2 linked regions of the Homo sapiens genome follow. The protein of the gene in region 1 purifies or fractionates together with the protein of each later gene. This does not show direct contact. Each region holds a gene or a part of one and is shown on either strand. Other genes may lie near its edges.

The links. Proteins that work in one complex are often made in the same cells at the same time.
Region 2: the proteins of PCDHGA7 (region 1) and SLITRK3 purify together in Homo sapiens (affinity purification with mass spectrometry; one large-scale study listed by BioGRID and IntAct). This does not show direct contact.

What each region holds. Positions count from the first base shown.
Region 1 is NC_000005.10:141,381,555-141,385,541, reverse strand, and holds the start of PCDHGA7 (protocadherin gamma-A7 isoform 1 precursor), read right to left. Parts: upstream 2,801-3,987; 5' UTR 2,643-2,800; coding exon 219-2,642; coding exon of another isoform or gene 189-218; exon of another isoform or gene 1-188. UniProt on the Homo sapiens protein: Potential calcium-dependent cell-adhesion protein. May be involved in the establishment and maintenance of specific neuronal connections in the brain.
Region 2 is NC_000003.12:165,193,585-165,197,716, forward strand, and holds the start of SLITRK3 (SLIT and NTRK-like protein 3 precursor), read right to left. Parts: upstream 2,801-4,132; 5' UTR 1,996-2,800; intron 1-1,995. UniProt on the Homo sapiens protein: Suppresses neurite outgrowth.

The DNA of each region.
Region 1 (3,987 bases):
CCACATATTCATAATCTTGTCCATAGGCTTTCACTAAAGAAATACTATATCCTATGTGTTCTATATTAAAGTGTCACCACTGAAGGAAACTGGTAAACTCATTTTTACCTCTATAAAGTTTTTTAAATCCCTATTTTCAAAACATTTGTTTTGCAAAATAATAGAGAAATATCATGCAAATAAATTCCTCATGGAAATAAAGGAAGGGCTGGGCTCACCTGAATACTTGGCAGGTTTTCTTTACATTCCTGAAAATCTACGGATGTTAGCAAAGAATCATTTTTCTCACAGCTCTCCTGGCTGATGAGCATGTCTACATAGTTGGGCTGGGGGAAGATCAGGTGACTCTTCCGAGAGTCCGCGGTGAGGGAGACCTCATGGGAATAGGTCTGCAGGAAAGCCTGCACCCCGTCCATGCCCACAAAGTGCGAGGTGGGCACGTTCGCCAAGCCACCTTCTGAAGCCTGCAGCAGGCGTGACTTGTGCCAGCGCCGCAGCCTGAGCGCCAGCAGTACGAGGACGAAGGCTAGGAAGACGCAGGAGACTGTGGCCACCGCCACCACCAGGTACAACGTGAGGTCATAGTTGTAAGGACCGTCGGAGGGCTCAAGGCTGCCCAGGTCGGCCAAGACTTCGGGGATGCTGTCAGCCACAGCCACGGTGAGTGTGACGGTGGCTGACAGAGGAGGCTGACCGTGGTCCTGGACGGCCACCACGAGGCTCTGCTTGAGGGCATCTCTGTCCAGCAGGGCCCGAGCCGTGCGCACCTCGCCCGTGTACAGCCCAACCGCAAAGAGTCCTGGCTCGCTGGCCTTAAGCAGGAGGTATGACAGCCAGGCGTTCTGGCCTGAATCTTTGTCCACCGCCACCACCTTGGTCACCAGGTAGCCGGGCTCTGCGGAGCGGGGTGCCAGCTCCATGCCAGTAGAACCATCTGTGGGGAGGGCCGGGTACAGGATCTCGGGCGGGTTGTCATTCTGGTCCAGCACGAACAGGCTCAGTGACATGTTGCTGCTGAGAGGCGGGTCCCCGCTGTCATGTGCAGTCACTCTTAGTTGTAGTTCTCTCAACTGCTCATAATCAAAGGATTGCAGCGCGTACAGGACTCCAGTGTCAGAGTTTATGGAGACATAGGAGGACACTGGAGCCCCCTGGATGGTGTCTTCGGCCAAGGAATAAGTGATCTGGGCATTATCCTCACTGTCGTGGTCCTGTGCAGTCACTAAGAAAATGGAGGCCCCTCTGGGGTTGTTCTCAGCGATGTAGACTGAGTAGGATGAGTGGGGGAAGGTGGGTGGGTTATCGTTGGTGTCTGCCACCTGCATGAATATGTGAGTTTCCCTGGACAAGGGAGGAGTTCCACCATCTGTGGCTTTCAGTGTGATGTTATACAAAGAGAGTGTTTCCCGGTCCAAGTTTTTGGTTGTGACCAATCTATAATAATTATCTATTGATTTTTCTAATTTAAAAGGTAGGTTTTCTGGAATGGTGCAGGTCACCTCACCATTCTTTCCAGAATCTCTGTCTTGTAGGTAGAAAAGAGCAATGACTGTCCCAAGAGGTGTGTCTTCAGGGATTGAGCTACTTAAAGACGTCATAGTCACTTCTGGAGCATTATCATTTACATCTAAAACTGTGATCAGTACTTTTGCCTTTGTCAGACTACCAGGACCATCTTGAGCCTGAACCTCCATTTCATAGAAGGCAGTTTCTTCATAATCTAATCCTTCTAAAGTTGATATTTCTCCTGTAAGCGAGTTCAGATGAAACATCTTTGGAAGTTTAGGAGTTATTTTCCGAAAAGAATATGTCACTTCCCCATTGACTCCCTCGTCCAGGTCGATAGCATGTACCGTGAGCAGTCTTGTACCCACTGGCACATTCTCGGGGACAGTTACTTGGTACTGAGGCAGAGAGAAGACAGGCGTGTGGTCATTCACATCCACCACTGTCACCTGGATGTGGGCGGTGCTGGATCGGGGCGGGTCGCCGCCATCAGAGGCTGTGAGGACCAGGTGGTGAACCCGCTCTTCCTCCCGGTCCAGCACCCGCTCCAGCACCAGTTCCGGGTACTTAGTTTCATCGTCTCCACTTTGCACAGCCAGGGAGAAGTGGCGATTGGGGCTGAGCTGGTAACTCTGGAGGGAGTTCGTGCCCACATCTGGATCCCCAGCCTCGCTTAACGGAAACCGAACCCCAGGAGCTGTATTCTCCATTATTTTTACATTTATTTCTTCCGTCAAGAATCTTGGAACGTTGTCATTAATATCTATTATTTCCACGTCTATAGGGTAAAGATTCATTTTATCTTCCATCAGGATGTTAAAGTTTACCAGACACCGCGCACTCTGAGCGCAGATCTCTTCCCGGTCTATCCTGCCCGCAGTGACCAAGCTGCCGCTGCGCTGGTTCAGGGCGAAAAGCTGCGTCCTACCTCTGGAGATGATGCGGACTCCGCGCTCCGCCAGCTCCCGGGGCTCCAGCCCCAGGTCCTTGGCGATGTCTCCCACAAAGGACCCTTTGTCCGTCTCCTCCGACACGGAGTAGAGAATACGTCCTGCCCAGGCTTCCCAGGGGGTCCCCAGGAGGATGGAGAGCAGGAAGAATCCTCTGTAGTCCCCGCCCCTCGGCTGAGCCGCCATAGTCGTCCTGCTTCTCTTGCTTAGGCGCCGATCTCGGGAAGTGCTTCAGAATGCGGGTGTATCCGGGTGGACCCCTCTGTCTTAGGAAGGGGAGCTCAGAATCCAGCAGGATAGAGGCTTGAGTTTAGTGCAGCCTGGAAGAGGGCTTATCGCAATCTGTCGTTTCTCTGTGCTGTAAAACTCGGTGGTTTCTGTGGGATCTCTCGCACCATTTTTCCCTGGTTGGTGAACAGCGGCGCTGTGAGTCCTTACTAAGTTACTGCACCACATTGATGCACACAATACACTGATTTCATAGAAAATTGTTTCATCTTTCAAAATTTCCCTGTTAGATTTCTTTGCTCTAGATATCCCTGATAATTAAAAATCCATTTTAAGACACTGAATTAATGCAACAGTGTTCATGGACCGGTGTTTGATAATCTTAGATAATTTTTAAAAAACTGCTTTGCCTTGCAACTTTCAAGTGACTCTTTTGGGCACTGACTCACACGTTATTGCACATGGGAAAATCAGTTATTGAAGGCAAAAAGGTAAATTTTATTTAAATACATATGAAAGATTTTACTTAGAAAATATTTACATCAGTGTATATAAATTTTAATTAATTCAGTATTAATTGAACACATATGTTCTAGACACCATGATGCAAGATTCAGAAAGTCAAAATTGTTGTAAAATATATAGACCTATTTTAATAAATTTTTGATTGTATAGAACCTTAGAGACGGTCTAACACCTTCATTTTAACCGTTTAAAAAATGAGAGGGGGGGCCAGGTGCTGTTGCTCACGCCTGTAATCCCACACTTTGTGAGGCCGAGGCGGGCGGATCACCTGAGGTCGGGAGCTTGAGACCAGCCTGACCAACATGGAGAAACCCCGTCTCTACTAAAAATACAAAATTATCCGGGCGTGGTGGCGCGCGCCTGTAATCCCAGCTACTCAGGAGGCTGAGGCAGGAAAATCGCTTGAACCCGGGAGGTGGAGGTTGTGGTGAGCCGAGATCACACCATTGCACTCCAGCCTGGACAACAAGAGCAAAACTCTGCCAAAAAAAAAAAAAAAAAAAAAAGAAGAAGAAAGAAAGAAAGAAAGAAAGAGGGAATTGCCTTGCCTTGTTCCTGATTATTGATTATATAGTAGTAGAACAATGTCGGAATCCAAATATTCTCACTCCCAGTCTTGTGAGAAAAAAAGAAAGAAATCGTTGTTTGTCTTGGCTGCAGCAATCAGCTATAGAAGCAACCCATTTTCTACAGAAGGCAGAAATCTGCAGAGATCCTACTGGGCTGTGAATTCATAAGAAACTGGATAATGGATTGGCTGATTCTTTTCATTATGCAA
Region 2 (4,132 bases), on another chromosome or scaffold:
ATCCCGTTGCACCAGGAATTCTTTTGTTGTGCTGCAGGTCAAAGCCTTCGATAGCCCCTGGATTCAACAGCATTTCTTTTCTTCCACTTTTTAAAAACAGAGACAAGCCAATTCTCTGGAAGGAGATACAGACCACTTGGGTAACAATGGTACATTTCACATTGCGCCACCGGGAAAGACCTCGCGGGATTGGGGTGGATTTAAGGATTTGGATGCTTTTGTCCGTTCTTTCTCTTTCTTATTTTTTAAACTCAAATATTTCTCCGTGAAATTTTCGGGGAGTGAATCCTAGGGAGTAGTGGGAGTGGGGGTGGAGGTGATTGAAGGAAGATATTGTATTGTAGAGGGACTACCAGATGACAGTTCAGGAACGCTTTCAGAGGAATTTTTTTAAGGCTCAGCTGACAGCACTACAGTCCTGCCTGCTGGGAAGGAATGCAGCTTGGTGGGGAAACTGGGGAGAGCCAAGTGTGCAGCAAAGGAGTCTAATCAACAGGACCCGTGTGCTGTGGATGCTCCCCATCTGCCCCCACCAGCACACACCAATCCTGTCACCAACTCCTCGCCGGGAGGGGAGAAGGCAGGGACTTTTTGGTTGCTAAAGAACTAAACTGAACCTCAATTGCCCAAGGACTCAAAGTTAGTAGGTAGAGATGGTTTTCCCTTAATGGACCCTTTACAAAAGCAAATTTTAAAGCAAAGCACAGCTTACATGTCAATTTCTTACTGCTCTAAAACAGGTAAATCACCTAACAATGTGTTCCTTAAAAGTCAGTCAAAGGCAATTTCCATGATATTTTGCATTTAAAATGACCGCACAGGAGTCCACTGGCAGACAGTAGCTAATTTTAGAAACATGCCACCATACACTAAGTAAGCAGGAGGGCAGAATTTTCTAACATTCTACCCTTAATATTCCAGACTCACCCTATTGCTCCCATAGGTCTTAGCCAAGAAGTAAACCAATACCGATAGCCTAAGCTCAGAATCAGAGCAATTCCCTCTCCCTCCCCAGCTGCCGGCACCCGCACCCTCCCCCCCATCCCCCGCCCAGCACTTTGGGTACCCAATGTGCAGAGGCGGTGACTATTTATCGGGTGTTATCGGAACCCATGATGTGATGGAATCGATGGGTAACCCGGAGGCTGCCCTGAGCTTCCAGATGACGGTAAATGTTGTCTCGGCAATGAAGTCTCTGTTATTTCTTGAACTAAAACCCCTTACGTTCTGGACCTGGGCTGTGTCCTAAAGGCTATCTCACCTTTTTCCTTTTCTTTAGCTCAGGATAGCGCGTCTAAAGGACAGGGAGGGCTCCAAAAGTTAGGGAATATTGAGCCATGGGGCCCCAGTTTTTTCCGTGTCCTGCTGGGAGCGCCCAGAGCCATTTGTTTGTCCAGAGGGAGGACAAGAAGCCCTTTCTCCCTGCTGTGCCCCCTTCCCACTTCCTCCTCCCCACTGCTGGATCTTACAGCTCACTAATTTTTTCAGATCTAAGATTAAGTATTCCAATATGGAAGCAAAACTATCTTCCCTAGAACAAATAATTAAAACGCTGCATCATTCATTTTCTGAAGAGCTTTGAGCCGTCTATAGAGCCTTTTCTAATCTGCTGTCGTCAGGCGAAACGCACAATGGTCTGTTTAGAAACGGAAAATTATTAAAAGCTCAAGCCTTTTTCCTTCTACCTCTTACAACACCAGCGAGCATTCCACTGGGGGAGGGGTCCTTCGCTCCGCCACCTGGCCTATTTGTTGGAGTTACTTACGATGTCTTCACCCAGAAAAGAGGTCCGAGGGTATGTTAGTCTCCGGTACCCCTCCTTCCACCAACGTCCTTACACCTAACTGATCCAATTCAAAACTGCAACAAACCCCTAGCACCTGTGAGCGTACAGAATACACCGCGGCCAAACTCGATGTGCTCTACAATGCACATCCTACATACGAGAAATACTGGTTTCAATTAGGCGAAGTAGGAAAGGATGGCGGCGAGTACCTATGGTGCAGAGCGCTCAGGATCTCCGAGGTTTGCTGCGAGGGGCTACCCAGCAGGAGGGGCAAACTCTCTGCGAAGCTGAATTGTATCCATCATACTGTAGCCTTGTAGCTTCTCCTCTTCTGGCCACCAACTTTCCGAAAGGCTACCGAATCACGCTTGTAATCCGTTTAAATGTTTCCACCTTTGAGACTTGCAGGGAAATGGTCGCTGCATACCAATGGGAGAGCGGGGCGCGCACCTAGCGCGGCGATGCCAGCGACAGGGAGCTCACGACCACAGCTCCCTATGCCCTCGATGGTTGGTAGGCAGGCAGGCAGAGTGAGTGTCCCAGGACTAGGTTCCTTTGATTTAAAATCTCGGTGCTCTGGATCAGTGGAGAGCTTCGTTGTTCCCGAGAGCCTGAGCTCAGTCTCTGGATTTCTCTCTTTCTCTCTTCCTCAAAGGTTGTCACTCACAGCGCAATCCCTGCCCGAGGCCTCCTTCCATCCGAGAAGATGGAATTAGCCCTTGCTTTTCCAGGGTGTCTTTGCTCTTTGCCCTTTAGGTGGGTGGGAGTGGGGGTTGGTGGCGTGTAGATGAGAGAAGAAAAGGGTGGGGAGAGGCGGAAAGGAGGCAGGAAGGGGGCGACTAGATCTCAGATCCCAGCATTGGTCAGACGGCGAAGGTGGGGGGAAAGAAGGAGAGGGGGAGAGAAGATACAAATACACAGTATGGCTGTGCACACCAAATTCCACTTGGATTTGGGAGATCTCAGGCAAAGCACGAAGGTGAAGCGATACCGTTGGCAGAGAGTGAGTCCTCTGACCGCTCACCATTCAAGCACCCTCACTTCTCGAGCGGGAGAAGGTGCGGGGGAGGGGGGTGGGAGGGGGAGGGGACTGCTGAACGTTTCAGGCCAAGGAGACGCTCGCGGCGGCGGCGGCGGCGGCATCTTTTAAGACTGACCTGCTTTAAAAGTGCCACTTTAATGGCCTAGGAAATAACTAAAATCGGATTACACGTTACTTACCAACGTCTCCTCCTAAACTGGAGCGCCAGGTCGTGTATAAGGAGTCAATATAGGAAACGCAGGGCTGGAACCTGAATGCAAATCCATCAGCCGCCCCCAAATCGCGCACCAAGGGAGCGGCGCTCGGGAGCCCCCAGATCAGCCCATCGCCGGAGCTCCGCCAGCGCGTCCCCCCCGCACCCCCGGCCCCTCCTCCGCGCCAACTGTGTAAATCAGCCGCCGCAGTCCTCTCGCCGCGCATCGCAGGCAAAATCCCGGCTTAGGAAGCAAGGAAGCAAGTGATCTCTCTCTCTCTCTCTCTCTCTGTCTCTCTCTCTCTCTCTCTCTCTCTCTCTCCTCTCTCTGTCTCTCTCTCTCTCGCTCTCTCTCTCGCTCTCGCTCTCGCTCTCTCTCTCTCGCTTTCGCTGTCCGCCTTTCCCTCTCCCCCATTATCGGTCACAACCTGGCAGCTCTTCAAGAGACACCCTGTGAAATTGAGTGTCGGGAAGTCAGCATTCTGTACCCGTGGATTGATTTGTAACTTTTATTTGCAAATGAGAGAGATGCCTGTTTGGAAAATTACAGCCCAAAAGGTGGAGGGTGATCAAATTAAGAACATCTGAGCTGTATTGGTGGGCGGTATCGCTAAACGCCTCCGGGGAGCGGTTTCCAAGTGATTTGCAGTAATCCCCCACCTTCATGATACATGGGTGACGATTTGAAAGTACACATATTTCCTCATCTGTTTACATTTGCCGGGGGCGGGGGGCATAAAACTGTAGGGCACAGGGAGTTGGGAGGGGGGCATTTGCCTGAGAGATGCTGGATACCATTTCGCGATAAATTAGATACGGACACTGGAACAATTAATACGTGTAATAACACGTATGTGAAAGTATTATTACAACATTACAGAGGCGACCATTACCCCCACTGCAGTCATACTAATGCAGTCATTCGTTTAATGCTCCATTCAATCTGCAGTGTAAACCAACGCAATTCTTTTTAATAGATCCCTTTCATCAGAGACTGTGTTGGAAAGAGGGCAGTCTTCCACTAACTCCCAAAGTGAATAGAAGGTAGCCTGGGGAATCATCTCTGTATCTCTTGCCATTTCTTCCTGAAGAGAATGCAATACATTGTCCA